Homo sapiens: one gene and its partners. The protein of the gene in region 1 purifies or fractionates together with the protein of each later gene. This does not show direct contact. Each region holds a gene or a part of one and is shown in the gene's direction. Other genes may lie near its edges. The genes, in order: SOST, GTF2I, ISG20, CRYBG1, USP16, SRRT and GLDC.

The links.
Region 2: the proteins of SOST (region 1) and GTF2I purify together in Homo sapiens (affinity purification with mass spectrometry; 2 studies listed by BioGRID and IntAct, with this or other methods). This does not show direct contact.
Region 3: the proteins of SOST (region 1) and ISG20 purify together in Homo sapiens (affinity purification with western blotting; one study listed by BioGRID). This does not show direct contact.
Region 4: the proteins of SOST (region 1) and CRYBG1 purify together in Homo sapiens (affinity purification with mass spectrometry; one large-scale study listed by BioGRID and IntAct). This does not show direct contact.
Region 5: the proteins of SOST (region 1) and USP16 purify together in Homo sapiens (affinity purification with mass spectrometry; one large-scale study listed by BioGRID and IntAct). This does not show direct contact.
Region 6: the proteins of SOST (region 1) and SRRT purify together in Homo sapiens (affinity purification with mass spectrometry; 2 studies listed by BioGRID and IntAct, with this or other methods). This does not show direct contact.
Region 7: the proteins of SOST (region 1) and GLDC purify together in Homo sapiens (affinity purification with mass spectrometry; 2 studies listed by BioGRID and IntAct, with this or other methods). This does not show direct contact.

Annotation. Positions count from the first base shown.
Region 1 is NC_000017.11:43,752,836-43,756,177, reverse strand, and holds the end of SOST (sclerostin precursor), read left to right. Parts: intron 1-414; coding exon 415-836; 3' UTR 837-2,440; downstream 2,441-3,342. UniProt on the Homo sapiens protein: Negative regulator of bone growth that acts through inhibition of Wnt signaling and bone formation.
Region 2 is NC_000007.14:74,663,979-74,668,266, forward strand, and holds part of GTF2I (general transcription factor II-I), read left to right. Parts: intron 1-4,288. UniProt on the Homo sapiens protein: Interacts with the basal transcription machinery by coordinating the formation of a multiprotein complex at the C-FOS promoter, and linking specific signal responsive activator complexes.
Region 3 is NC_000015.10:88,648,552-88,652,839, forward strand, and holds part of ISG20 (interferon-stimulated gene 20 kDa protein), read left to right. Parts: intron 1-1,683; exon of another isoform or gene 1,684-3,363; coding exon of another isoform or gene 3,364-3,558; coding exon 3,559-3,759; intron 3,760-4,288.
Region 4 is NC_000006.12:106,566,385-106,570,072, forward strand, and holds part of CRYBG1 (beta/gamma crystallin domain-containing protein 1), read left to right. Parts: intron 1-2,087; coding exon 2,088-2,182; 3' UTR 2,183-3,688. UniProt on the Homo sapiens protein: May function as suppressor of malignant melanoma. It may exert its effects through interactions with the cytoskeleton.
Region 5 is NC_000021.9:29,030,875-29,035,162, forward strand, and holds part of USP16 (ubiquitin carboxyl-terminal hydrolase 16), read left to right. Parts: intron 1-3,962; coding exon 3,963-4,066; intron 4,067-4,288. UniProt on the Homo sapiens protein: Specifically deubiquitinates 'Lys-120' of histone H2A (H2AK119Ub), a specific tag for epigenetic transcriptional repression, thereby acting as a coactivator.
Region 6 is NC_000007.14:100,881,207-100,885,494, forward strand, and holds part of SRRT (serrate RNA effector molecule homolog), read left to right. Parts: intron 1-78; coding exon 79-207; intron 208-452; coding exon 453-599; intron 600-846; coding exon 847-1,035; intron 1,036-2,863; coding exon 2,864-3,033; intron 3,034-3,161; coding exon 3,162-3,346; intron 3,347-3,533; coding exon 3,534-3,632; intron 3,633-3,716; coding exon 3,717-3,834; intron 3,835-4,006; coding exon 4,007-4,164; intron 4,165-4,288. UniProt on the Homo sapiens protein: Acts as a mediator between the cap-binding complex (CBC) and the primary microRNAs (miRNAs) processing machinery during cell proliferation.
Region 7 is NC_000009.12:6,586,454-6,590,741, reverse strand, and holds part of GLDC (glycine dehydrogenase (decarboxylating), mitochondrial precursor), read left to right. Parts: intron 1-1,449; coding exon 1,450-1,547; intron 1,548-2,039; coding exon 2,040-2,124; intron 2,125-2,299; coding exon 2,300-2,341; intron 2,342-3,458; coding exon 3,459-3,601; intron 3,602-4,288. UniProt on the Homo sapiens protein: The glycine cleavage system catalyzes the degradation of glycine.

The DNA of each region.
Region 1 (3,342 bases):
CAGAAGAGAAATGATAATAATAATACATAACAGCCGACGCTTTCAGCTATATGTGCCAAATGGTATTTTCTGCATTGCGTGTGTAATGGATTAACTCGCAATGCTTGGGGCGGCCCATTTTGCAGACAGGAAGAAGAGAGAGGTTAAGGAACTTGCCCAAGATGACACCTGCAGTGAGCGATGGAGCCCTGGTGTTTGAACCCCAGCAGTCATTTGGCTCCGAGGGGACAGGGTGCGCAGGAGAGCTTTCCACCAGCTCTAGAGCATCTGGGACCTTCCTGCAATAGATGTTCAGGGGCAAAAGCCTCTGGAGACAGGCTTGGCAAAAGCAGGGCTGGGGTGGAGAGAGACGGGCCGGTCCAGGGCAGGGGTGGCCAGGCGGGCGGCCACCCTCACGCGCGCCTCTCTCCACAGACGTGTCCGAGTACAGCTGCCGCGAGCTGCACTTCACCCGCTACGTGACCGATGGGCCGTGCCGCAGCGCCAAGCCGGTCACCGAGCTGGTGTGCTCCGGCCAGTGCGGCCCGGCGCGCCTGCTGCCCAACGCCATCGGCCGCGGCAAGTGGTGGCGACCTAGTGGGCCCGACTTCCGCTGCATCCCCGACCGCTACCGCGCGCAGCGCGTGCAGCTGCTGTGTCCCGGTGGTGAGGCGCCGCGCGCGCGCAAGGTGCGCCTGGTGGCCTCGTGCAAGTGCAAGCGCCTCACCCGCTTCCACAACCAGTCGGAGCTCAAGGACTTCGGGACCGAGGCCGCTCGGCCGCAGAAGGGCCGGAAGCCGCGGCCCCGCGCCCGGAGCGCCAAAGCCAACCAGGCCGAGCTGGAGAACGCCTACTAGAGCCCGCCCGCGCCCCTCCCCACCGGCGGGCGCCCCGGCCCTGAACCCGCGCCCCACATTTCTGTCCTCTGCGCGTGGTTTGATTGTTTATATTTCATTGTAAATGCCTGCAACCCAGGGCAGGGGGCTGAGACCTTCCAGGCCCTGAGGAATCCCGGGCGCCGGCAAGGCCCCCCTCAGCCCGCCAGCTGAGGGGTCCCACGGGGCAGGGGAGGGAATTGAGAGTCACAGACACTGAGCCACGCAGCCCCGCCTCTGGGGCCGCCTACCTTTGCTGGTCCCACTTCAGAGGAGGCAGAAATGGAAGCATTTTCACCGCCCTGGGGTTTTAAGGGAGCGGTGTGGGAGTGGGAAAGTCCAGGGACTGGTTAAGAAAGTTGGATAAGATTCCCCCTTGCACCTCGCTGCCCATCAGAAAGCCTGAGGCGTGCCCAGAGCACAAGACTGGGGGCAACTGTAGATGTGGTTTCTAGTCCTGGCTCTGCCACTAACTTGCTGTGTAACCTTGAACTACACAATTCTCCTTCGGGACCTCAATTTCCACTTTGTAAAATGAGGGTGGAGGTGGGAATAGGATCTCGAGGAGACTATTGGCATATGATTCCAAGGACTCCAGTGCCTTTTGAATGGGCAGAGGTGAGAGAGAGAGAGAGAAAGAGAGAGAATGAATGCAGTTGCATTGATTCAGTGCCAAGGTCACTTCCAGAATTCAGAGTTGTGATGCTCTCTTCTGACAGCCAAAGATGAAAAACAAACAGAAAAAAAAAAGTAAAGAGTCTATTTATGGCTGACATATTTACGGCTGACAAACTCCTGGAAGAAGCTATGCTGCTTCCCAGCCTGGCTTCCCCGGATGTTTGGCTACCTCCACCCCTCCATCTCAAAGAAATAACATCATCCATTGGGGTAGAAAAGGAGAGGGTCCGAGGGTGGTGGGAGGGATAGAAATCACATCCGCCCCAACTTCCCAAAGAGCAGCATCCCTCCCCCGACCCATAGCCATGTTTTAAAGTCACCTTCCGAAGAGAAGTGAAAGGTTCAAGGACACTGGCCTTGCAGGCCCGAGGGAGCAGCCATCACAAACTCACAGACCAGCACATCCCTTTTGAGACACCGCCTTCTGCCCACCACTCACGGACACATTTCTGCCTAGAAAACAGCTTCTTACTGCTCTTACATGTGATGGCATATCTTACACTAAAAGAATATTATTGGGGGAAAAACTACAAGTGCTGTACATATGCTGAGAAACTGCAGAGCATAATACTGCCACCCAAAAATCTTTTTGAAAATCATTTCCAGACAACCTCTTACTTTCTGTGTAGTTTTTAATTGTTAAAAAAAAAAAGTTTTAAACAGAAGCACATGACATATGAAAGCCTGCAGGACTGGTCGTTTTTTTGGCAATTCTTCCACGTGGGACTTGTCCACAAGAATGAAAGTAGTGGTTTTTAAAGAGTTAAGTTACATATTTATTTTCTCACTTAAGTTATTTATGCAAAAGTTTTTCTTGTAGAGAATGACAATGTTAATATTGCTTTATGAATTAACAGTCTGTTCTTCCAGAGTCCAGAGACATTGTTAATAAAGACAATGAATCATGACCGAAAGGATGTGGTCTCATTTTGTCAACCACACATGACGTCATTTCTGTCAAAGTTGACACCCTTCTCTTGGTCACTAGAGCTCCAACCTTGGACACACCTTTGACTGCTCTCTGGTGGCCCTTGTGGCAATTATGTCTTCCTTTGAAAAGTCATGTTTATCCCTTCCTTTCCAAACCCAGACCGCATTTCTTCACCCAGGGCATGGTAATAACCTCAGCCTTGTATCCTTTTAGCAGCCTCCCCTCCATGCTGGCTTCCAAAATGCTGTTCTCATTGTATCACTCCCCTGCTCAAAAGCCTTCCATAGCTCCCCCTTGCCCAGGATCAAGTGCAGTTTCCCTATCTGACATGGGAGGCCTTCTCTGCTTGACTCCCACCTCCCACTCCACCAAGCTTCCTACTGACTCCAAATGGTCATGCAGATCCCTGCTTCCTTAGTTTGCCATCCACACTTAGCACCCCCAATAACTAATCCTCTTTCTTTAGGATTCACATTACTTGTCATCTCTTCCCCTAACCTTCCAGAGATGTTCCAATCTCCCATGATCCCTCTCTCCTCTGAGGTTCCAGCCCCTTTTGTCTACACCACTACTTTGGTTCCTAATTCTGTTTTCCATTTGACAGTCATTCATGGAGGACCAGCCTGGCCAAGTCCTGCTTAGTACTGGCATAGACAACACAAAGCCAAGTACAATTCAGGACCAGCTCACAGGAAACTTCATCTTCTTCGAAGTGTGGATTTGATGCCTCCTGGGTAGAAATGTAGGATCTTCAAAAGTGGGCCAGCCTCCTGCACTTCTCTCAAAGTCTCGCCTCCCCAAGGTGTCTTAATAGTGCTGGATGCTAGCTGAGTTAGCATCTTCAGATGAAGAGTAACCCTAAAGTTACTCTTCAGTTGC
Region 2 (4,288 bases), on another chromosome or scaffold:
GCCACCATGCCCGGCTAATTTTGTATTTTTAGTAGAGACGGGGTTTCACCGTGTTGGCCAGGTTGGTCTCAAACTCCTGACCTCAGGTGATCTGCCCGCCTTGGCCTCCGAAAGTGCTGGGCCACCGCACCCAGCCAAGGATGTGTGTATCCTGTAAAAATTGTGTGGGTACGTCATCGGAAGAGGTGAAGGTATTGTCTTGATAATTCTTCATTCTCCATTCTTGCCCTGTCGTCCTTTACTGTTGTCCTTTTGTTCTGGAACTCTCCCTGCTGTCTTCCTGTTTGTTTTCTCCTCTGTAAAATTCTTGTTTTGGTATTCCATGCCTGTTTCTGGCAGTACTCATTTGCTTTTTACCACTTTGGCCTACTGAGAAAGTAAGAGAAAGTTCAGTATAGCCAGGAACTGTCAGAGTTGTTGGAGGATTGACTCATTCTCCTTTGGTTGTAACTTGTTTCTGTTTTTGTTTTTTTGAGAAGGAGTCTCCCTCTGTCGCACAGGCTAAAGTGCAATGGCGCGATCTCGGCTCACTGCAACTCTCGCCTCCCAGGTTCAAGCGATTCTCCTGCCTCAGTCTCCTGAGTAGCTGGGATTACAGGTGTGTGCCACCATGCCCGGCTAATTTTTGTATTTTTAGTAGATACAGGTTTCACCATGTTGGCCAGGCTGGTCTCAAACTGCTGACCTCAAATGATCCACCTGCCTCAGCCTCCCAAAGTGCTGGGATTACAGGCATGAGCCACCACGCCTGGCCAACACTCTATGTAGGATTTTTAAAGAACTAGTTACTTAAAAAATATATCATGAGAGGGAAGACAAATTTATAAATTGAGAGAGGGTTTATAGCTTATGGCTAGCGACACAAGTTTGAAGTCTGACTGCCTGGATTCCAGTCCTGGCCCTTGCCGTTTCCTGCCTGTGCGACCTTGGGCATTTCACTTCATCTTTGTATGTTTCCCTATTTTTTGTTTTTTTTTTTTGAGACAGAGTTTTGCTCTTGTTGCCCAGGCTGGAGTGTAGTGGCGCGCCTGGCTCACCGCAATCTCCGCCTACTGGGTTCAAGCGATTTTCCTGCCTCAGCCTCCTGAGTAGCTGGGATTACAGGTATGTGCCACCACCACGCCTGGCTAATTTTGTATTTTTAGTAGAGACGGGGTTTCTCCATTTTGGTCAGGCTGGTCTCGAACTCCTGACCTCAGGTGATCCACCCGCCTCGGCCTCCCAAAGTGCTGGGATTACAGGTGTGAGCCAACAGTGCCCGGCCTATTTTTTATTTTTATTTTTATTTTTTGAGACAGTGTCTTGCTCTGTTACCCAGGCTGGAATGCAGTGGCATGATCTCAGCTCACTACAACCCCTGCCTCTCGGGTTCGAGTGATTCTTGTGCCTCAGCCTCCCGAGTAGCTGGAATTATAGGCATGCGCCACCACACCTGGCTAATTTTTGTATTTTTAGCAGAGACAGGGTTTCACCATGTTGGCCAGGCTGGTCTCCAACTCTTGACCTCAGATGGTCCGCCCACCTCAGCCTCTCAAAGGCTGGGATTACAGGCCTGAGCCACCACGCCTGGCCCCTATTTTTAAAAATGGAGTTGATAATAGAACATGTTTCGCTTCTAAGAGCTGTTGCAAGGATAGAGTTTAAGTGCTTAGGTTGCTGTCTGGCATGTAGTAGACACTCAAGAAATATTAGTCATAAAAGTACTATTATAAAGACTTTTGGGAAATTGAGGAAGCGAAAATTTTACTAGTAATATCGACTATGACGTTAATCTCCAAGAACTCTGGAGAATATGAATTGCAAGGGCAAGGACTTATTCCTCTGTGGGATTTTCCCCTGTGACTGTTACATTGTTTTTATGTTTTGTTTTGTTGAGATGGAGTCTCCCTCTGTCACCCAGGCTGGAGTGCAGTGGCGGGATCCCAGCTCATTGCAACCTTCACCTCTGCCTCCCGGGTTCAAGTGATTCTCCTGTCTTAGCTTCCCAAGTAGCTGGGACTACAGGCGTGCGCCACCATGCCCAGCTAATTTTTGTATTTTTTAGTAGAGAAGGGGTTTTACTATATGTTGGCCAGGCTGGTCTGGAACCCCTGACCTCAGGTGATCTGCCCATCTCAGCCTCCCAAAGTGCTGGGATTACAGACGTGATCCACCGCGCCTGGCCAGAGCTTGACAGTTGGATTGATGAAACCTGAGAATGTATGCTTTATATGTTGTTCATTTTAATTTGTTATATCTAGAAATTTAGCTCTTACTGTTGACTATAACACATACATGACGTGAGTAGAATTTTATCTAGATTGAGTTTTCAGACCGTAATTGGTTTCAAGAAAATAAATAAGGTATTGGAAGTGAACTAAAATTAGTAACTGGCTTTGGCATTAGACTTTAATGCACTTAAATTACATGATCTCATCTGTGAGATAATTTGACAGAGGAGGACGATGGCATGTATTATGTCCATATGAGGAAAGGGCAGAGAAATAGACCCTGCAAGATTCATTAGTGTTACTCCTTCCTCCTGTTCGTTTTCTTTCTTCGTTTTCCCCCCCGGTAAGCATTAAAAAAAATTTTTTTTGGCTGGGTGTGGTGGCTCACTCCTGTACTCCCAGCACTTTGGGAGGCCATGACTCACTTGAGGTCAGGAGTTTGAGACCAGCCTGGCCAACATGGTGAAACCCCGTCTCTACTAAAAATACAAAAAATTGGCCGGGCACGGTGGCTCACACCTGTAATCCCAGCACTTTGGGAGTCCAAGGCGGGTGGATCACGAGGTCAGGAGATCGAGACCATCATGGCTAACATGGTGAAACCCTGTCTCTACTAAAAATACAAAAAAAAAAAAAAAAAAATTAGCCAGGCGTGATGGCGGGTGCCTGTAGTCCCAGCTACTCAGGAGGCTGAGGCAGGAGAATGGTGTGAAACCGGCAGGCGGAGCTTGCAGTGAGCTGAGATCGCACCACTGCACTCCAGCCTGGGTGACAGTGTGACACTCTGTCTCAAAAAACAAAAACAAATTAGCTAGGCGTGGTGGTGCGCACCTGTAATCCCAGACACTCGGGAGGCTGAGGCAGGAGAATCACTTGAACCCTGGAGGCGGAGGTTGCAGTGAGCCAAGATCACGCCATTCCACTCCAGCCTGGGCCATAGAACAAGACTATGTCTCAAGGAAAACAAACAAACAAAAAAACACATCTCTACTGAAAATACAGAAGTTAGCTGGGAGTGGTGACAGGTGCCTGTAATGCCAGCTGCTTGAGTGGCTGAGGCATGAGAATCACTTGAACCCGGGAGGTGGAGGTTACAGTGTACCGAGATCTTGCCACTGCTCTCCAGCCTAGGCGACAGAGCAAGACACCATCTCAAAAAAAAGAAAATCCTGTAAGATGAATTTGTTCCTTTATGAAGAATAAATTTGTGTCTGCCATTTACACCGTGAATGCCTTTCTTTGGAGTGGTTCCTTGTAGTGTTTTTTGTTGTTGTCGTTGTTGTTAAATTGTGGTAACATATACTTAACACAAAAATTACCATTTTAACCTTTTTTTGTGGGGGGAGGGACGGGATGTCACTCTGTTGCCCAGGCTGGAGTGCAGTGGTATGCTTTTGGCTCACTGTAACCTTCGTGTCCTAGGGTCAAGACATCCTCCCACCTCAGTCTCCCGAGTAGCTGGGACTACAGGTGCATGCCACCACGTCTGGCTTGATTTTTTTATTTTTTGTGGAGATGGGGGTCTCACTATGTTGCCCAGGCTGGTCTCCAACTCCTGAGCTCAAACAATCTGCCTGCATCTGCCTCCCAAAGTGCTGGGATTAGAGACATGAGCTACCACACCCAGCCTGATTTTACCAAAAGAAACTTTTTTTTTTTTTTTTGAGACAGAGTCTTGCTTTGTTGTCAGGCTGGAGTTCAGGGGCATGATCTCGGCTCATGGCAACCTCCATCTCCCGGGTTCAAGTGATTCTTCTGCCTCAGCCTCTCAAGTAGCTGGGACTACAGGTGCGCACCACCACGCCCAGCTAATTTTTGTATTTTTAGTAGAGATGGGGTTTCACCATGTTAGCCAGGATGGTCTCAGTCTCCTGACCTCATGATCCACTTGCCTCGGCCTCCCAAAGTGCTGGGATTACAGGCGTGAGCCACCGCGCCCAGTCTTAACCATTTTTAAGTGTATGTATAGTTCAGTGGTGCAGAACTTTTTTTTTTTTTTTTTTTTTTTGAGACAGGGTCTTGCTCTGTTGCCCAGGCTGGAATGTAGGATATTATCAAGTTCATCTGTGTGTTAGAAT
Region 3 (4,288 bases), on another chromosome or scaffold:
CACCGCCTTGCACCGTTATCATTGTGTGCCTGGTAGTGCCCTGTCCCTTGGTCCTTGTGCTAATAATAACAACTACAGTAACAATGATGGGGTCAGGTGGATCCAGACACGGCACTGCAGCTTTCAGCTGACTAGCTGTGTGACTTGGGCAAGCCCCTTAATCTCTCTGATCTCGGGCTCCCTCCTCTGTAAAATGGAATTAAGAATAACCTCATTGAGGAGCTTCCTGAGGAGGTAAGGAAAGTGCCTGGCACAGTGCCAGGCTGCTAAGAGATCAATAAATGTCCCATCCCCCAGCCCCACCCCAGTTCTTTCCAGGAATTTGAGAGACTCCTCCCCCTGTGTTTGAAAGTGGCAAAGTCTGGCACACTTGCCTCATGACACTGACTCAGGGCAGGTCCTGTGGCCAGCAGGTCACACAGCCCCGAGGCCAGCCTGCCAGTGCCTTTCTCCGACTCCTGGGCTCCAGCAGGTGCCCGACTCCTTCCCTTTTCAGACCTGCCTCAGTCTGTGGAGCCCTGGCTGCTAAAGGGCCACTCAAGCCTCACCAGTCTGGGCCCTCACCTTACAAATGGGAAAACTGAAGCCCAGAGAGGGTCTTTGACATCCCTGAGGTCACACAGCAAGTTCCAGCATCTCTTCCTTCCCAGAATCTTTGTCCCAAAGAGTGGTGTCTCTTTGCTAAATAGATGGTTCTGTTCTTTCCCTTCTTCCTCTTCTTTCCTCGGCTTGTCCTCTCCCTCTTATTCTATTTGTCTCGTGGTGAGTCACATAGTGCCTCATGTAGACCCCCACTTCCCCTCTCCAGACTCTCAGGCTCGGGAAGTGATGGGTTTCCTGGGAATCCACACCATGATGACTCGTACCTTCTACGTCTGTGCCCAGCTGTGGCTGCCTCTGGGATGGTGGATGAGTTCCTTCAGGGCTTTGTGTGAACTGGGCCTGAGCCAAGCCCCTAGATGGGGAAAACAGGCCACATTGTTCAGGAGCACAAAGGATGTTAGCAAGAAAAGACACATGACCCATGGCCGCCCACACACCCACATCTCTCCACGCCCCGTGCCATTTCTGCCCGCCGCTGCGTGCTGGGTGGTTTCCTCTGCACAGAGTTTCCCTTGAGCTGCTACTCTGAGGTCGTGTGCCTGTTGTCATCTTTTAAAGCCTCAGTTTTGTCGCCATTTCCCAGGTGACCTCTAGCACACTCAAGTTTGAGAAGCGCTGGTGTGGTTCAGGAGCAGCGCCCCTTCATTCTCCAGCACACTCTCCCCAGTCCTCTAAGTCGAGCGTGAGCTCTGTCCAGAGAAGGCCTCCAACCAGACCATGTGGACCGCGGGGCAGGCTGGTGACACTGCCTGTTGACAGTGGATGGACAGACTGCTTCCCGCATAGTGACCCTGGGCAAGTCACATCTCCTCTCTGAGCCTCAGTCTCCTGTGGTTGCCAGGGGAGAACATGTAAAAGGGAACACATGATGTTCCAGGAGGCCGCTGGCTATCTAGAAGGAGAAGCAGGCTACGGGGAAGGTGTTAGGCACCAGAAGGCTCTTTCCTGGTGTACAGGCTAAGGTCGTGGGCTACATGCAGAGAAGGAGACGAAGGCTGTCCTAGAGCTGTCCAAAGTGGGCCTGGACTAGCCACGAGCCGCCCCTTTCCCTAATAGAGCTCACATCTGTTCTATTTTCAGGTCCCCTTCCCATCCTCTCCAACGGCAGCTGAGTGAAAGCAAGCTGACTGGCCTGTGTGACCAGAGCAGGGCAGGCTGTCCATGTGGGAGGCGAGGCGAGGAACGCGGGGCTGGGGCAGTCACAGCTGGGCGCCTGGGCTGCTGGAGGCCTGGAGTGGTCGTTCACTCTTCTGGCTCAGTGTGGCAGTGGCAGGCGGGCTCTGGATTCATCCCACTGGCTTCAAGGCCTGGCTTTGCCACTAACTAGCCGTGTGACTGTCCCAGTTATCAAATGGTGCTTGGCAAATCACACCAAAACTTACCGGTTCAAACAATGTCAATACTTATTTCGCTCGGCCACCTGCAGTTTGGGCAGGTGCTCTGCAGCAGGACAGGCCGTCAGTTAAGGCACCTTGAAGGCTGGGGGCTGGAACCATTGGAAGGTTTGCTCACCCACCTGTCTGGTGGCTGGTGCTGGCCTGCCTTGGACACATCACTATCTCGGTGGCTTTTCCCCGTGGTCTTTCCAGCATGGTGGCTTTGGGGTGGCCAGACATTTATTTATTTATTTATTTATTGAGACGGAGTCGTGCTCAGTCGCCCAAGCTGTAGTGCAGTGGCACGATCTCAGCTCACTTGCAATCTCCCTCCCAGGCTCAAGCAATTCTCCTGCCTCAGCCTCCCGAGTAACTGGGAATAGCCACGGCGCATGGGTAATTTTTGCATTTTTAGTAGAGACAGAGTCTCACCATGTTGGCCAGGCTGGTCTCAAACTCCTGGCCTCAGGTGATCCACCTGCCTCACCTCCCAAAGTGCTGGGATTACAGACGTGAGACACCGTGCCTGGCTGGTGGCCGGACTTCTTATAGAATTGCGGTCCCAGAGAGAAGTCAGAAGTCATACAGGCCAGCCCATATGCAATGGGAGGGGAGTTTGATTCCATCTTTTTTAAGAAGAGTGTCAAGGAATTTGCAAACTTGTTTTAAAATCATCAGAGTAAGCCTGGGCATGTCACTCCTCTGCATTTCAGATATTTCCTTTGTAAAACTCAGTTAAATGCAGTGCTCCCTCCTCACTGTTAGTTTTCTGTGGCTGCCGTAAGGAAGCCATCAACTTAGTGATTCACAGCAACACAGATGTCTTCTCTTACAGTTCTGTAGTTTCGAAGTTCAGCGTGGGTCTCACTGGTCTAAAATCAAAGTGTCAGTGGGGCTAGGTTCCTTCTGGATGCTCTGGGGAAGAATCCATTTCCTCGCCCTTTCTGGCTTCTAGAGGCTGCCTGAATACCTTAACTCACGGCCCCTCCCTCCATCTTCAAAGCCAGCAACAGCCTGTTTTCCTCATGTGGATTCACTCTGACCTCCACATGTAAGGAGGCTTGTGATTATGTTGGGACCACATGGGTAGGCCAGGTGATCTCCCCATTTGAAGGTCGACTGATTAGCAATCTAAGTTCTGCCCGGAACTTTAATTCCTCTTTGCCAGGTAATGCATTCACAGATCCTGGGGACTAGGGTGTGGACATCTTTGGGAGGTCATTATTCTGCCTGCCATAATAGAATTGTTGGGAAGATTAAACAACATAATATACATGACGTATGTTGAGGCACGCTTGGCACCTGGGAAATACTCAGGATGTACTAACCATTGCTCCTACACAGTTCAGCTCCTGAAGGAGTCCAGGTGGGCTTTTGGCACAGAATGAAACTATCAGGTGTGAGGAGGGTCCTAGTGCAATCTCTTCTTTTCAAAGATGATACATTTGAAGCCCAGGGAGGACTGATAATTTGCCCAAGGTCACACAGCCAGTCAAGGAGGGATTGCTCCCTTGCCAGCCCCAGCCCCACCCAGAAGATGCTGGGTCATGTAGGGGTGGGCACATGTCTTCCTGGCCAGATCCTGCAGCTCCTGAAAGGCAAGCTGGTGGTGGGTCATGACCTGAAGCACGACTTCCAGGCACTGAAAGAGGACATGAGCGGCTACACAATCTACGACACGTCCACTGACAGGCTGTTGTGGCGTGAGGCCAAGCTGGACCACTGCAGGCGTGTCTCCCTGCGGGTGCTGAGTGAGCGCCTCCTACACAAGAGCATCCAGGTGAGAACCTCCTCGTCCTTCTCCTCCTCCCCCCTCCTCCCCCTCCTCCCCCTCCTCCTCACCCATCTCCATTTCCTCCCCCTCCTCCCCCTCCTCCTCCCCCTCCTCCTCCCCCTCCTCCTTCTCCTCCTCCTTCTCCTCCCTCCTCCCCCTCCTCCTCCCCCTCCTCCTCCCCCTCCTCCTTCCCCTCCTCCTTCCCCTCCTCCTTCCCCTCCTCCCCCTTCCCCTCCCCCTTTGCCCTCCTCCCCTTCCTCCTCCCCCTCCCCCTCCCCCACCTCCTCGCTCTTCTCCCCTTCTTCCCCTTCCTCCTCCCCTGTCCCCTCCCTTTCCTCCTCCTCCCTCATGCCCTCGCACACCTCAGGGCAGCTTGCCTGAGGCATTGATGGTAGGTCCTGCTGTGCCTGGTCCCTGGCTGGTAGAGTGAGGATGAGGGCAGGGAAGGGAAAACACCCAACAAAGGTTTGCTTTTGTTGTTGAAATCAAGCCAGTTACCCTGTGGGAAGTGAAGCTTGCTCCCACCATAGAACTC
Region 4 (3,688 bases), on another chromosome or scaffold:
TACTCAAGTGCCTGCTGAGTAAGCATAATGTCCCGTATATTTGTGAAATCTCAGTATCTAGCACGGTAGCAACAACAGTCTTTTTTTTTTTTTTTTTTTTTTTTTGAGACGGAGTCTCACTCTGTCGTCCAGGCTGGAGTGCAATGACACGATCTCGGCTCACTGCAACCTCCGCCTCCTGGGTTCAAGCAATTCTCCTGCCTTAGCCTCCTGAGTAGCTGGGATTACAGGTGCCTGCCACCACGCCCGGCTAGCTACAACAGTTTTAATTCCTTGTTAAACTGAATTTAATTTTCTCAGACTGGGAGAATGGTGCCATCTTGTGGACATGAGAGAGCAGCGCCGCACGTCCCACACCCCATGCAAAGGAAAATATAAACACGTCTCTTCTCGTTGGTGCACTTACTAGCAGACCATGATTTCCATTAGCTACAACTACTGAACCATTTGTTATCTATTAAAATTGCCCTAAGAATTATTAGATCATGCATCTGTCTTCTAGCTCATCTTCTTGTGTTTGGGAAATGAGTTCTTTTGGTAGACATTCATGTATTATTCCAGACCACATACCTTGTAACAACAGTGGAAGCTGATTCATGTTCACTTTAAAAAACATGAAGTCTGCACAATTTAAACACTCTCCAAAGGCAAGAGAATGAATCAAATTATTTCTCAAGAACTTTCTAGTTTTCATGATTCTAGTTGAATTTATATGAAAGTATTTTAAGATACTTTACTTTTAAAATACAAAAGATACTCTTAAAATACAAAAAGTATTTTAACATACTATAATGAAGAATGAAAAGAGACATTGTGACTTTAATACTTCCTGAAATTTCAGTGGAGTATGCTGTGTGTCTCTGTCTCGGCAGAGTGTAGGGTTTGCTGGTAGTTTTTTCCCTACTGCTACAAACTTACACATAAAGGCCCAAAACACCTTACCCTTGTATTCTATAGTACATCTAGCCATACATCTAGCTGTGTAGAGGCTGTAGATTACCAATGATGATAAATCAGTGTCTCACAAGAGAAGAGACGATTTCCTTCCTCAACTATAATACCTAGATTTATTGTGTAAATTCCCAAACCTTTTTCATATTTTGTAAATGCTTCAAAGGTGAAAAGAATGTTTATTTCTTCTTGATCCAAGGAGGAAGCATGCTTTCAATACCAGTCACTCCCTGCATCAAAATGCACAGATTTTTACTTTGATGGGGTCTTTGTTGATACATCCTTGGTGCTGAGGTTTATGCTAAAAAAAGGATAAGCCATCTGAAGGGATCTTTATTCTACACTGGAAAAAAAAAAATCAGATAACCCTTTTGTTAATGATACTTCTCCAAAGAAAGAAGCCATGAGGCTGTTTTTAGCACTAAAGTATCTGAAACATCCAGTAAGCACCTTTGGAAAATCTTACAAACATTCTGGTAACAGGGAGAGAGTTCATGATAATAGTTTTACAATACTGTGGTACTCAGCATCCTAAATGCTATGAAATTTTATCCACCAACTGAGTCCCCAGTAGTGACAATGCTACCGCGTCCCCTTATGTACTTCCGGGTGTCATCCAAACCTCCCCTTTGACCTAATACAGCCCGTTTTCATTGTTCATGCAAGTGCTGTTCCTCGATAACCATTCCTCCCACCTTTCCACCACTGCCAGGACTACCTGCTCTTTCCTCGCTGGTGTCTCGAATCTACCATCTCACCACCAAATATATGTTAGTCTCTTTACTCCTTTTCCCTTCTCTCGGGTTTTCCCAGTTCCCTTGAATTTCAGACATTGTAAGAGTGACTGTGGACTAGCTCTTAAGAACTGGGTAGAAAAAGGAGCCCGTGAGGTGGGATGTCCTGTGTGAAGGTGCTGGTGCCCCAATGGTGGGATCTGGACAGATTCACCCATGGCAGGTTGACCCTCTCATCCCACAGGGGCCCAGGCTTCCCTCCCTGCCTTGCCTCCTTGAGGCATGCAGTTCTACACCTTGTTTACTTGCTTACTTTTGCTGTACTGGTGTTAGGGGAATTGTGTCTGCTATAGACCCTTCACCATGGGTACATTCATCTTTTATTATTTTCCTTTCTTTTAGGGGGCACACAGTATGATCAAAATCACATTATCCTCAACACTGTCAGCAAAGAGAAGTTTACACAAGTGTGGGAAGCCATGGTCCTATATACCTGAACAAAGAAGGAAGAAGAATCTTCTGGAGGTCCTTCCAGCCACCTTATTTCTTAAAAAGGACAATGCTGATGGAAGACCAGACTGGAAAGTGGATCGACTCCTCCTTCATTGATTCTAAATTCAACCTTAAATCATGCTGCCATGACTCAGAGAACTTACTCATCGTTTCAAAAGACTATCATAGCTTTAAACCAATAATTTGTCCTCCTTTCATTTCTTGCCTTTCATTTTTGGTAGCTGCTTAAACAGGTTGCCTAATTAGCAGCTTTTGGGTGATTTTGTAAAATGTTATATCAAGATTTCAAGACTGTGTACATTTTAAATTATTTCCAAAGATAGTGACAGGAGAGAACTGGAACAAATTTACCAACTTTGTGGACCTACAAAGCCCTTACACTTTAAAGGGTAAGACAAAGGCTTAAGTTTGAAAGGTAGAGAACTGTTTAGCATCTGAGAAGAAATACTTTATTAGGCCTGTAATTTTGGTTCTTGGCCTTAAACACTTTCTGGAACCTTTAAATATGCTGCATAGCACAATGGGAAAGCCTTAGGTATTCACACATTTAAGGAACTCTAAACAAAATACTATTTTCCTTTAGTTCATATTAAAAATTAATACATTTTAAAAATTTAATGTCAAAGTCTGGTAACATTTGTTAGTAGGATTTGAGTTATTATTTTTTGAGACAGGATCTCAGGCTGGAGTGCAGTGGCACAATCACGGCTCACTGCAGCCTCTACCTCCCCAGGCTCAGGTGATCCTCCCACCTCAGCCTCCCAAGTAGCTGGGACTATAGGCACACATCACCAAGCCCAGCCAAATTTTGTTTTTTTTTTGTAGAGATGGGGTTTCATCACGTTGCCCAGGCTGATCTCGAACCTCTGGGCTCAAGCAATTCACTCGCCTCGGCCTCCCAAAATGCTGGGATTACAGGCCTGAGCCACTGCGCCCAGCCAGGATTTGAATTATTTTAACTCATCCATGGGCTGCCCTAGAATGTCACAAATGAGGGTTGTTTAATGCCTTTCTTATAGCTGCTACTGGAACACTATTATGACCTAATTTATGAGCCATCCTTACTCATCTACAAGTGCTGAAGCAATGTTACATACTTTTTTGCTAAACTCAGATTTTTTAGCCTAATTTCTTGTCCTCCTATCCACCTGCATCCACACATGGCCTGCATGGGGCTGCCTTCCCTGCAGTGTTCTGCAGCCATGCTTCAGGGTATAGCTGTTGGTGGACAGCCTCAGGTCTTGGGGGCACTATAGCCACTAAACGAGGTGTGAAAGGCTCAAGAGGATGACCAGCAATTAATTATCCCCAGAAAGTGAAGGAAAAGAGACCTTTAGGGATGTTGCTGGTCAAGTCTTGATTTGACCGGAGTCAAATCAATCTTCAAGCAATCTTGGAATCCTCAACTGCAGTAAGCATTTCAAAATGCAAACAAACTGCTTAACAACTGACAAGACACCAGCCCATACGCTGCTCTTCCAACAGTGGGT
Region 5 (4,288 bases), on another chromosome or scaffold:
TAACATAGATCATGTTCTCTGGAGAACCAGTTCTGAGATGTGTGTATAGGTGGTGGAGTGTTCTCTGGTACCACACCAGTAAAAGTAAGGGAAGCAAGATTAAGCATAGGGAGAAGTTGAATGAAGAGGCAGTGGCAACAGGGTCTCAGCCAATCCCACAGTGATCTCTTGCCTGAATTGAGGCAAGGAGCTAGACCTTTCTACCTGTGCATAGACCAGTCATTGGATGTGGCCTGCCCCTAGAGCAGGAAGTAACCTTGGGCAAGGCAGCTCCCTTTTGTTGAGACTGATTCCTGGGGATGGATGGACTAGACTGTGAGCTCTCAGCCGGCCACATTCTCAGCACCTGGGGGAATGAGTAGTACCTTGATCTTTGGCAGTGAGGGCATGTCTGGCTGGCACATCACAGTATCTACTCTACCAGCTCACAGTTATTACCGTGGTACTAAAGTCAGGGTCTCTCAGTTACCCTTAGTGGTGGCAAGTTAAGCTTATATGTTAGGAAATTGGGCTACTAGGCAGTAGTCATGAAGTCATGAGGCTTCAAGATCAGGCAGATAGCCAGTTTTTTGTTGTTTTTTTGAGATGGGGTCTCACTCTGTCACCCAGGCTGGAGTGCAGTGGCACAATCTTGGCTCATGGCAGCCTCCACCTCCCAGGTTCAAGCAGTTTTCCTGCCTCAGTCTCCAAGTAGCTGGAATTACAGGTGTGTGCCACCACGCCTGGCTGAGTTTTGTATTTTTAGTAGAGACAGGGTTTTGCCATGTTGGCCAGGCTGGTCTCAAACTCCTGATTTCAAGTGATCCACTCACCTTGGCTCCCTCAAAGTGCTAGGAATACAGGCGTGAGCCACTGCGCCCAGCCAGGATTTTTTGTTTTTTCACGTTTTCAAATTGAAAATCTTATTGAGGTTATTATAGATCATGTGCAGATCTAACAGATAATACAGAGAAATCCCTATGCATTTTTCTCAGAGTCCCCCAGTGGTAACATTTTACAAAATGAGTATAATATCACAACCAGGATATTGAGATTGAAACAACACACCAATCGCAATCAGATCTCCTGAGTTTGACTTCTTTTTTTGTGCATGTGTGTATGTGTACATGTGTATTACATTCTGTACACTTTTGTCACCTGTGTAGATTATTCACCACCACAGTCACGATACTAAATAGTTGAACATCACAGGGATCTCTTGTGTTGCCCTTGTATAATCATACCCACCTCCCTACTGCCACCACTCTCTGCAGCCCCTGGCAACTACCATTCTATTCTGTATTTCTAAATTTAGTCATTTCATCAAAAATGTTATGTAAATGGAGTCATACAGTGTGCAACATTTGGGGATTGGCTTTTGCTTTTTTCTTTTTTTGAGGCAGGGTCTCACTCTCTCACCCAGGCTGGAGTTCAGCGGTATAATCACGGCTCACGGCAGCCTTCACCTCCCAGGCTCAAGTGATCCTCCCACCTCAGCCTCCTGAGTAGCTGGGACTACACCTGCATGCCACCACTCCTGGCTAATTTTTGTATTTTTTCTAAAGATGCGGTTTTGGTATACTGCCCAGGCTGGTCTTGAACTCCTGGGCTCAAGTGATCTACCCCCCTGGGCCTCCCAAAGTGCTAAGATGATAGGTGTGAGCCACCGTGCCCAGCCAGGATTGGCTTTTTCACTCAGCATAATCACCCAAAGATTTATCAAAGCTGTGTGTATCAAGTTTGCTCTTTTTTTATTACTGAGCGTATTTTATGGCATATAGTACAACAGCTTGTTTTTACTGTTTACCTGTCGAATGACAACATCTGGGCTGATCCCATTTTTTGGTGATTACAAATAAAGCTGCTGTTAACATTTGTGTACAGGTTTTTGTGTGAACTTAGATTTCATTTCTCTAGGATAAATGCCCAAGAGTGCAATTGCTGGGTCCTATGGCAATTTAATGTTTAGTTTTTTAAGAAACTGCCAAACTGCCAAACTGTTTTTTCACAGTGACTCTACCTTTTATATTCTTACTAGCAGTGTATGAATGATTCACTTTCACTTTTTCTTCATTTTTGCCAGCATTTACAATTGTCACAGTTTTTTATTTTAGCCATCATGATAGTTATATACTGATATCTCATTGTGGTCAGTTAAAAAAATCTGTATGTTAGAAAAGATACTGTTTACTTGTATTTGAAAGGTTTAATTGTAACCTTTTAAATACATATGGTGAGTATGAATATGCTTTGCTATTTCAGTTTTTCAGAATATATTTTGTGTTACAAATTTTTGTGCTACCTTTTTAATTTGTAAGAATAAGACATGTCAGTATTAACTGCTAACTTTTTTCCCACTAGATACCTTTGGCACTGTTAGCTAATGATTCTTAACTGTTGTCTCAAGACAACTATGTTTCAAATGATCTCAAATGATGTTGTAATTTTCAAAAATAGTATCAAATGTTAATTCATTTATTTTGTAATTAAATGTTCAGTGGGATAAATTAAGCGAATAGTGTTTGGGATCATAGTTAAGGAATTAGAAATTACCAATGTATATTTCTTCTCCAAAGTATATATTTAGCGGCAATGGAAACACGACCGGTTGTTGTACTGTGATCCAAAAGTTGATAGACTGGTTCCAGTAGATACACAGTGAAGATATGTTTCTCAGCAGTGATCTGACTAGCTGAAAGCAGAAGTTTAGGTCATGTTCTTTTATGAATAAGCCTATACATCTTTTAGGTAAAAGTCTCCCATTTACTTGTTTAAATAGTGTTTTTTGACCACCTCCTGTGTTCTAGAATATTTGGTAATAGATTAAGTCTACTGCCTTGAGCCTTTGGGATTTATAGACCAGGTGAGAAAGGATATAAATATCAATAACGTTAGTACAAGGTAAAAAATAAGGAATGCCACTAGGAATTCATGCCATGTTTTATAGAATTTGTTTAAAGGAAGGAGACAGTATTTTCTCATCTGGGAGATAAGTATAGGCTTCTGGGAGGAGGTGGCTTTTGAGCAAGATCTTGAAGAGTGGGTGGGATTTGGTTAGGTAGCAGTGTTCATAAAGGATTCTGGATAAATAGAATAATGTGAACAAAATTGCATAGTTGTGAAAAGCGCTCAGTGTGTTTTTAGCTGGTCGTTGGTATGTGAATAAGAGAATGTGGGAGTTAACACTGGAGAGATATGTCGGGGTCAGAGGATGTCAGGTTTGTTTATTAGGAGTTTAAGAGTGCAATTCATAATTTTTGAATGGTGTATGAACAGAGCTTTGTTTTAGGAACACTAAACTGAAAGAATATGCATGTGAAGAAGGAGGCTGAAGTTAGGGGAATGTTTAGGAGACTGTTAAGGAATCCAAACCAGACTTGACTGCATTAGTGTGGTTTAATCTGGGCTGGAAAGTTGGACAAGAAGAGTACTTTGAGTGCATGGTTTTCTTTTTTTTTTTTTTTTTATTTTGAGATGGAGTTTTTGCTCTTGTTGCCCAGGCTAGAGTGCAGGCCCAGACGTGATCTTGGCTCACTGCAACCTCCGCCTCCTGAGTTCAAGCAGTTCTCCTGCCTCAGCCTCCTAATTAGCTGGGATTACAGATGTGCGCCACCACACCCGGCTAATTTTTGTATTTTTAGTAGAGATGGGGTTTCACCATGTTGGTCAGGCTGGTCTCGAACTCCTGACCTCAGGTGATCCCACCCCTGGCCTCAGCCTCCCAAAGTGCTGGGATTACAGGTGTGAGCCACCGCGCCTAGCGAGTGCATGGTTTTCTAAATACTTGTTGACTTAAATGTTCTCAGTTGCCTGTGCATATGTAAGTTTTAACAAAATATTGATTCTAGAGTCTAACATTTTCTTTTCAAGATTGTAAGAATGGCAGAATTTCATGAGCCACTTCCTTGTTTATGATAGATTATGCATTCTCCCCTCTTGCTGAGTTTTTATGGCTTTGAGGTTTATGATTATGATTTTTTTAGGGCTGTGGCAGAAATTCTCAGGAGCAGCATGCCTTGAAGCACTATCTGACGCCAAGATCTGAACCTCACTGTCTGGTTCTTAGTTTGGACAACTGGAGTGTATGGTGAGTTTCAGTTCCTCTGCCTCTTGGGTGGAAATTATTTGAAATATTAGAGAATGGAAATGTTTAAATATGTTTAAGAAGAAAGCAATTTAAAATTTTTGTAGTATGTTTTAAAATACCATCACTTTCACAAAGCTAAAGAATGCAGTATTATGAGAAGCTTTTACTTGGACGTTTGCACAAGCACAAACATTGTAACATAGAAGACTTAAGAATCTTTAC
Region 6 (4,288 bases), on another chromosome or scaffold:
GGCCTCAAAAGTGCTTGGATTACAGGCATGAGCCACTGTGCCTGGCCTTTAATCTTTGTTACTTGTTCTTACTGCCAGAGAGTGGGACCGTGGCCGTGAGCGCCGTAGTCGGGGTGAATATCGGGACTATGACCGGAATCGGCGAGAGCGCTTCTCGCCACCTCGCCACGAACTCAGCCCGCCACAGAAGCGCATGAGGAGAGACTGGTGAGATGGAGCGGTTTCCCTCTCCTCCCCTTTGCCTCAGTTCCACCTGGGCCTCCCCTTTCTCCCCTCACCTGTGCCTAAATCTTTGTCATTTCCTTTTCTCAACTTCCCATCACCCATCGTTACTTTGTCCCTTGAAACCCTTGTCTGGGAGACCATGCTGTGTGTACCCCCGTCTGTCCATCCTCCATGCTCTGGGGAGGTGACTCCCTTCTCTGCTTTACTTTTGTGTCCCCCACCTTCAGGGATGAGCACAGCTCTGACCCATACCACAGTGGCTATGAGATGCCCTATGCTGGGGGGGGTGGGGGCCCAACTTATGGCCCCCCTCAGCCCTGGGGCCACCCTGACGTCCACATCATGCAGCACCATGTCCTGCCTATCCAGGCCAGGTAAGGGTGGGGCTTCTCAGAAGAGGGTTGGTAGGCCTGGGGGATGGATGGGGTTGCTGAAGGCCATGGCTGAAGCCAGGGAGCGGGTCAGGCACACAGAGGCATGTCCCTGGGGTAGGGGTGGTAGCTGTTGGGGTTTGGGGTGATGTCCATGGTGGACAAAGTAAAGGGGCCCCAGCTACTTTGGCCCCTGTAGCCTCCCACCGTTCCCCAAAAACCAAGCCTTCCTGACCGGGGTCCCCTCCAGGCTGGGCAGCATTGCAGAGATTGACCTGGGTGTGCCGCCGCCCGTGATGAAGACCTTCAAGGAGTTTCTCCTCTCCCTGGATGACTCGGTGGATGAGACGGAGGCCGTCAAGCGCTATAATGACTACAAGCTGGATTTCCGGAGGCAACAGATGCAGGATTTCTTCCTGGCGCACAAAGATGAGGAGTGGTGAGTGCCCCTACTTCCCTGGACCTCTGCCCTGGCATGTCCCCCTGGCCCCGCTGGTGGAGCCACAGCCCTGTCCTCTTCCCAGTTTTCCCTGTCCAGAACTTTCTGGGGGCGGGGGTCGGGAAGTATGACAGCATTGGCTGATGGGGTCTCCCCCTCACTTCAGCAACTGCCACGGCCCCCGCCCCGCCCTGTCTCCTGTCCTGCTGTCCTCAGAGAGTGGGACACCTCCAGGCAGCAGGCCAGAGCCACTTGGCCCCTTGGGGCAGCAGACAGACTGCTTCCCACTTGTTGGTGTTGGGTCATTGTCATCCCTGATCACCAGGACCCTGTGTGGCTGTGGCGTCCTCCTAAAGCGACGAGTGAATCCAGACAAGAAAAGCAAAGATCTCGGTCGTTTGACAGAAAAAGAATTTTAATTTTTTTTTCCTTTTGTGGATGTTTTAATTTTAATCAACCATCTTTTCCCCCCTTCCTGCTCCTCCTCCTCCTCATCCTCTTTCTGCTCCTCCTCCTTGAAAAGAGCCAGAACTGGGAACTACACCCGCTCATCGACGGAGCTCGGAGCAAACCCACCTCCACCCCCACCATACCCAGCCCATACATGAGCCCCTGGGCTGAGCTGCGCGGCCCCGGCCAGGCAGACAGGCCAGGGCACTGCTGTGCACAATGCAGCGGTTTAGCTGAATGTGATTGCTCAGGCAGCTAGCCAGTCAGGCCCCACTGCGGAGTCCCGCGTGGGCATCTCGGCCGGGCGCCCAGCCAGGAGCCAGCCGGTGGCCCACCAGCCAGCATGGGCCCTGGGCGCCGCTAGTTAAATCTTGAGCTCTGTTTGACCAAGCGGCCAAGGTAAAGATCCTGGAGGTGATGCCTGCGGCTTTCCTTTCCTCTTCTGCCCCACTCGTGGTTCTGTTCTGTCTTCGCTGTCCCCTCTCTCGAATTGCTCTGTGTCTTTGTCCTAATCTCTCAGCACCTTCATTCTTCTCTGTTTCTGTTCTTGCTCCCTGCCTAACACCACCTTCTTCCCTGTTGGTTTTTTTAGTTTCTCTCTCTGATCTTTAGTTTTTCCCTTTGTTTTCGGTTTCTGGGACTTTCTCACACTCTCCCCTTTCCTCCCTTTCCCCTTTTCCTCATACTCCTCATTTCTTCTGTTTTCCCTCTGAGGTCCTATTTGAAATGTTTTATTTTTCTTCTCCCTAACCTTCCAGCCCTCTCCTCTCTCTCCCCCTGTGGGCAGGACCTGAGGCTCTAAAGGGCACTCCAGTGTCTCCCTTCGGTCTTTCCTGTCCCTTCACCGTCTTGCTTATCTTCCCACGGGTGGAGAAAGGTGCCCTGCCTCTGGGCTTTTGCTATCTGGCCCTCTGTCTTCCACCTCGGGGTGGAGGGAGTTGGCGGGAGCAGTTTTTGAATGACTGCAGTTTGGGGTTGGTGAGGAGAGGGAGGTTCTTCAGGGCCTGCTATTTCCTGAGCCTTCCTCTCTGAAGCTTTGGGAAATGACACCTTTTTACTACGTTAGTGTTTCCCAGAGATTTAAAGTGGTAAATCTGCCTCTCCTACCCTGGCGTCCCCCTGTAGTCATTGGTCTTCCCAAATCCAGAGCTCTTAGTTCCTGGTTCTCCCCCAAATCTTCACAGAACACAACTTCTGGTTCCTTTTGGGGTGTTGGGTGGTTCTAGCGCACCCCTATCCCTTAATCTCTCTATTTTGATGACCTTTTGTGGTTGTGAGAGGAAGGGGGATATGCCCTGTCTTTCCTGGGCCCCTTCCCACATCCTGGCCTTGGCTTCCAATAACTGTTTTGTCTTTCCCTCCCCCGCTTCGTTCCCAGGTTTCGGTCTAAGTACCACCCAGATGAGGTGGGGAAGCGTCGGCAGGAGGCCCGGGGGGCCCTGCAAAACCGACTGAGGGTCTTCCTGTCCCTCATGGAGACTGGCTGGTTTGATAACCTTCTCCTGGACATAGACAAAGCTGATGCCATTGTCAAGATGCTGGATGCAGGTGTGCGGATTTGGAGGGGTGGCAGGCATCTGGGCCCCATGGGGGTGGGGGTGTCTGGGGATCAGGTAGAAGCCGGTTGACAGGAGCCAGGGCCCTGGGGTCATGACCTCTGTTCCCTTTGTTGGTAGCCGTGATTAAGATGGAAGGAGGCACGGAGAATGATCTTCGCATCCTGGAGCAGGAGGAGGAGGAGGAGCAGGCAGGAAAGCCTGGGGAGCCCAGCAAGAAAGAAGAAGGACGGGCTGGAGCAGGCCTAGGGGACGGGGAGCGCAAAACCAACGACAAGGATGAGAAGAAGGAAGACGGCAAGCAGGTCCGAGCCCTGGGTCTCCTAGTGTTGTCCCTGGCAGCCTGGGGGAGGGGGGCGGGTAGGGGTCCATAGGAGCTAGAAGTAGGGGGCTGGGGAAAATGAACCTGTGGCCTCAGCTGTGGGGGTGGGGGCCCTCTGATAAAGGTGGGAGGGGAGGTTTGACATCCCCAGTGGTTGTCTCTTACCATAGGCTGAGAATGACAGTTCTAATGATGACAAAACAAAGAAGTCGGAGGGTGATGGGGACAAGGAAGAGAAGAAAGAAGACTCCGAGAAGGAAGCCAAAAAGGTGAGGTGTCTGTGGCCTGGGGTCAGAGTGTTGGGGCTGGGGTTCTGGCACGCTGACTTGTCCCCTCTGCTGTGGCTCACACAGAGTAGCAAGAAGCGGAACCGGAAGCACAGTGGTGACGACAGCTTTGACGAGGGCAGCGTGTCAGAGTCTGAGTCGGAGTCAGAGAGCGGCCAGGCTGAGGAGGAGAAGGAGGAGGCCGGTAGGGTTTCTTTTCTGCTTTAAAGTGCGTTCTCCTAATGCGGGTGGGGAGGTGAGAGGTTGGCGACATTGACGGGAGGGTGGGTGGCTTTTAGGGGAAAGCTTCTGTATCCTCCCCACCACAATCAGTAATAAAAATGCACCAACTCCTTCCTACCCCCCTTCCTGCCTAGAAGAAGCGCTCAAGGAGAAGGAGAAGCCCAAGGAAGAAGAATGGGAGAAGCCCAAGGACGCCGCGGGGCTGGAGTGCAAGCCGCGGCCGCTGCATAAGACCTGCTCCCTCTTCATGCGCAACATCGCGCCCAACATCTCCCGGGCCGAGATCATCTCCGTGAGTGGGGACCCGTGGAGTCAGGGCAGGGCTGATGGAGAAGTGGAGGGTAGAGGGAAGGCAGTGGGGCCCTGCCTGTGACAGATGCCCCCGTTTCACCTGCTAGGGAGGCCCCTTCCCCAGG
Region 7 (4,288 bases), on another chromosome or scaffold:
ACTAAGGGGTCAAGAGGGCCATTATTTTAGTTCATTTGCATTGGAGTACCTGAGGCTAAATAATTTATAAATAAAATAGCTTTATTTGGCTCATGTTTCTGCAGGCTGTGCTGTGCAAGAAGCGTTTGCTTCTGGTGAGGGTTTCAGGAAACTTCCTCTCATGAAGGAAGGGGAAGAGGAGCAGGCATCACATGGCAAAAGAAAAAGGAAGAGAGAGAGAGGAGGGAGGTGCCAGGCTCTTTTTAACAATCACTTCTCATCAGTTCTCATGGGAACTAGTAGAGTGAGAACTCACTCATTACTGTGAAGACAGCGCCAAGCCCATCTTCAACACTGGGGATCACATTTCACCCTGAGATCTGGAGGGGACAAGTATTAAATCTGTATTAGTCATATTATTAGCCTGGCAAGGAATGAGGATCAAGCCATGTATTGATTATATATTCTGGATATTAAATCCTTATCAGATATATGACTTACATATATTTTCTTCCATTCTGTGGGTAGTCAGTCTCTTAACTTTCTTGATAATGTTCTTTGATGCACACACATTTCAAATTTTATAGAAATTTAATTTATCTAATTTTTATATATGTTTATTGTTTATTCCTTTGGTGTCACATTTAAGAAACCATTGCCAGATCCAAGGTTATGCAGATTAGCCCCTATATTTTCTTTTTTTTTTTTAAGATGGAGTCTTGCTCTGTCGCCCAGGGTGGCGTGCAGTGGCATGATCTCAGCTCACTGCAAACTCCACCTCCCAGGTTCACGCCATTCTCCTGCCTCAGCCTCCCGAGTAGCTGCGACTACAGGCACCCGCCAACACGACCGGCTAATTTTGTATTTTTTAGTAGAGACGGGGTTTCACCATGTGAGCCAGGATGGCCTCGATCTCCTGACCTTGTGATCCACCCACCTCGGCCTCCCAAAGTGCTGGGATTACAGGTGTGAGCCACCGCGCCTGGCCTATTTTCTTCTAAGTTTTAGTAGTTTTAGCTTTTAAATTTACATCTTTGGCCAGGCTCAGTGGCCCATGACTGTAATCCCAGCACTTTGGGAAGCCAAGGCAGGCAGATTGCTTGAGCCCAGGAGTTTGTGACCAGCCTGGGCGGCATGGTGAAACATCGTCTCTAGAAAAATACAAAAATCAGCCAGGTGTGGTGGCATGCACCTGTAGCCCCAGCTACTCAGGAGACTGAGGTAGGAGGATTGAGCCCAGTAGGGCCAAGGCTACAGTGAGTTGAGATCGTGCCACTGCACTCTAGCCTGGGTGCTAGAGAAAGACCCTGCCTCCAAAAATATTAAATAAATAAATAAATAAATAAATAAGTAAAATTATATATTTGATCCATTTTGAGTGCTTTGTGGCCCAGCCACCCAGAAGCCTGGATGTCCACATGTGGCTCCAGGCACAGTTCTGGCCCTATCATCTCTGTGTTTCTCCTTCAGGAACTGGTTGCTGAAAGCATGGGAGAGGAGTGCAGAGGTATTCCAGGGTCTGTGTTCAAGAGGACCAGCCCGTTCCTCACCCATCAAGTGTTCAACAGGTTTGTGTGTCTTGTGTGACTTCTGCGTTTTGTGCTTTGGTAATCAGCTAGGGAGTTAGGCAGAGTGCTGCTGCTGATTTCGCCTGCTGTGGCCTGGTTATTCTGGCTCAGCCGTGGCTCCCAAGTATTTCATCCTCATAACGATCCCGTTCCTGACTTGGGAAAAGCACACTTTGTTTCCTGGTGGCTCTGCTCCCTTGGCAGTCAGGAAGCAGGGATGAATAATTGCCAGGCTGAAGTTCACTCCCAAGAGCCCTATATCCTCTTCTTCCCAACCTTCAACTCATACCCACAGTCAGCTTCTTGTCCAAGACATCCTCTGAGGTTTGTGGGGGTCTGTGCCCTTCTCTCTGAGTGTAGTTGACATATTGTCCGTGGCCAAAATTGATCTGCATTTTGAAAGTAGATTTCGGTGTGTCTTATATGTCAGGAGGATGTGCATGGACTCATATCTACTTTTGGGGCCCCTAATTCTGTGTTTTGTGTTCACAGCTACCACTCTGAAACAAACATTGTCCGGTACATGAAGAAACTGGAAAATAAAGACATTTCCCTTGTTCACAGCATGATTCCACTGGTAGTTATTTGTGGCCTTTTTTCTCATTTCCAAGCTACCCCAATCCCACGTCTCTTGGTCCTACCTAATATGCTCCAAGAGCAACAAAGGGGTGGCCATGCTGGGAGAATGGAGGGTTGATTGATGGACTATAGAAAATCACTAATGTGATACATTTTGGATGTTCTTCTTAAAGGGATCCTGCACCATGAAACTGAACAGTTCGTCTGAACTCGCAGTAAGTAGCTCACTTCTGTAAGTGGATACTCAGCAAGGGGCAGTGTTCTAGCTTCCACCTAAGCCCAGAACTAGTGAAATCTACTGGGACTGTGATTCTGTGATTGAAGAACTATTTTAATAATTCTTTACCTTGCTATTCACCAATCTTGGGAGTAACCCTGTATTTCTCACGACTTCATCATTTAAATGTATGGGTAAACTTATTATTTTTTAATAAAATTAATTAAATGTATATGGTATTTATGCCTTTCTATCCTATCCCTCCCCCACCCCCACCCCCTTTTAAACCTGTCATATTAAAAGCTTTTTTAAAAAAAATTGTTTATAGTTCTAAATCTCAGGTAGAATTACGAACCTTAAGCCGTCTTTCTAGAAATCATTCCTGTATCAGAAAGATAGGGATTCAAGTCAACAGAAGATTTGTGCAACTCGCTGTTGTGGTTGGCAAGTATCTCTACTAGGCCAGGATCCATTTTAGCGAAGCTTTTTTTTTCTTTCTTTCATTTCTTACGTTTATTCTGAAGTGACATATCATATCAGACGAAAGAAATCATTTTATATCATGATAAGAATATTTCCCTCTCTATTTTTTTAAAAAATAGAGTCAAGGTCTTGCTGTGTTTGCCAGTCTGATCTCAGACTCCTGGCCTCAAGCAGTCCTCCCACCTCAGCCTCCCAGAGTTCTGGAATTATAGGTGTGAACCACTGTACCTGGCCTTCCCATTTACTTTTGTGTTTGTTTCTTGTTCCACTTAGTGAAGAAAGAGAACAATCTATTGCTATATAAGAGTTTATGCCAACCATACCTGAAGCAACTCATTGTGTTTCATGGAAAGAAATCTGTTTTGGGGGCTTTTCTTCCCTGAAAAGTTAGCAAAACATTGTATTTTTGTGTAAGTTCCCTTTTTGGACAACTATGTCCCACTTTTAAATGAAGACAGTAACGGTACTTACCTTATAAGGTTGTGGTGGAACTTAAATAAATTAACATATGTATAGCGCTTAGAACAGTGCCTGGCACATAGCTTTTCTCATCATCGTCATTATTATTAAAGTTATTATTGCTATTGCTATTATAATATGTATATATGCATTTTTGTTTTCTTTCTTTTCAGCCTATCACATGGAAAGAATTTGCAAACATCCACCCCTTTGTGCCTCTGGATCAAGCTCAAGGATATCAGCAGCTTTTCCGAGAGCTTGAGAAGGATTTGTGTGAACTCACAGGTTATGACCAGGTCTGTTTCCAGCCAAACAGGTAAGGGCATTTCTTTTCTTATTGTTTCAGCAATCTATTCTTGTATAGCATACACCACAAAACTTAAAGGCTTAGAACAACAACTTTTTTGTGTTATTCTGTGACTTGCTAGACAGTTCCACTCCACTGGGGAGAGCATGGCTAGAAGGTGCATCGTGTTCTCCCTCACATAGCTGGTGAGGAGCTGTGGGCTGGGAGTGCATTTGAGGATGTTCACTAGGGCCATAGTTTTTCTCCATATGGGGCTTTCCTTGTAGTTCCTTGAGCTTCCTTGTTCCTTACAGCACAATGTCGGGGTTCAGAATGCGTGTTCCCAGATGAAGCATGGAGAAGCTGCAAATCTCTAATGGCCGAACCTCCTAAGTTACACTGCATCCCTTCCAGATTAGTCTATCTATTAAAGCAAGTCACGAGGCGAGCCCAGATTGAATCGGGGAGGGGACAACACCTGGGTGTGAATTTTGGTAGATGTCGTTCATTGCGGACTGTCTTTGGAAGCTAGCTTACTACACCTGTCAGTGACACAGCATAAGAAGAAGGATCAAGCACACATGCTGAATTCCAACAAGTGTCTCAGTTTAGCAGGGCCAGGAGAACCTGGATCCTGCTTTGGTAATGTCACTAACTTTGAAAGGTCCCTTCTCCTCTTCCAGCCTCAATTTCTTTGTAAAGGAAAGACTTTGAAGA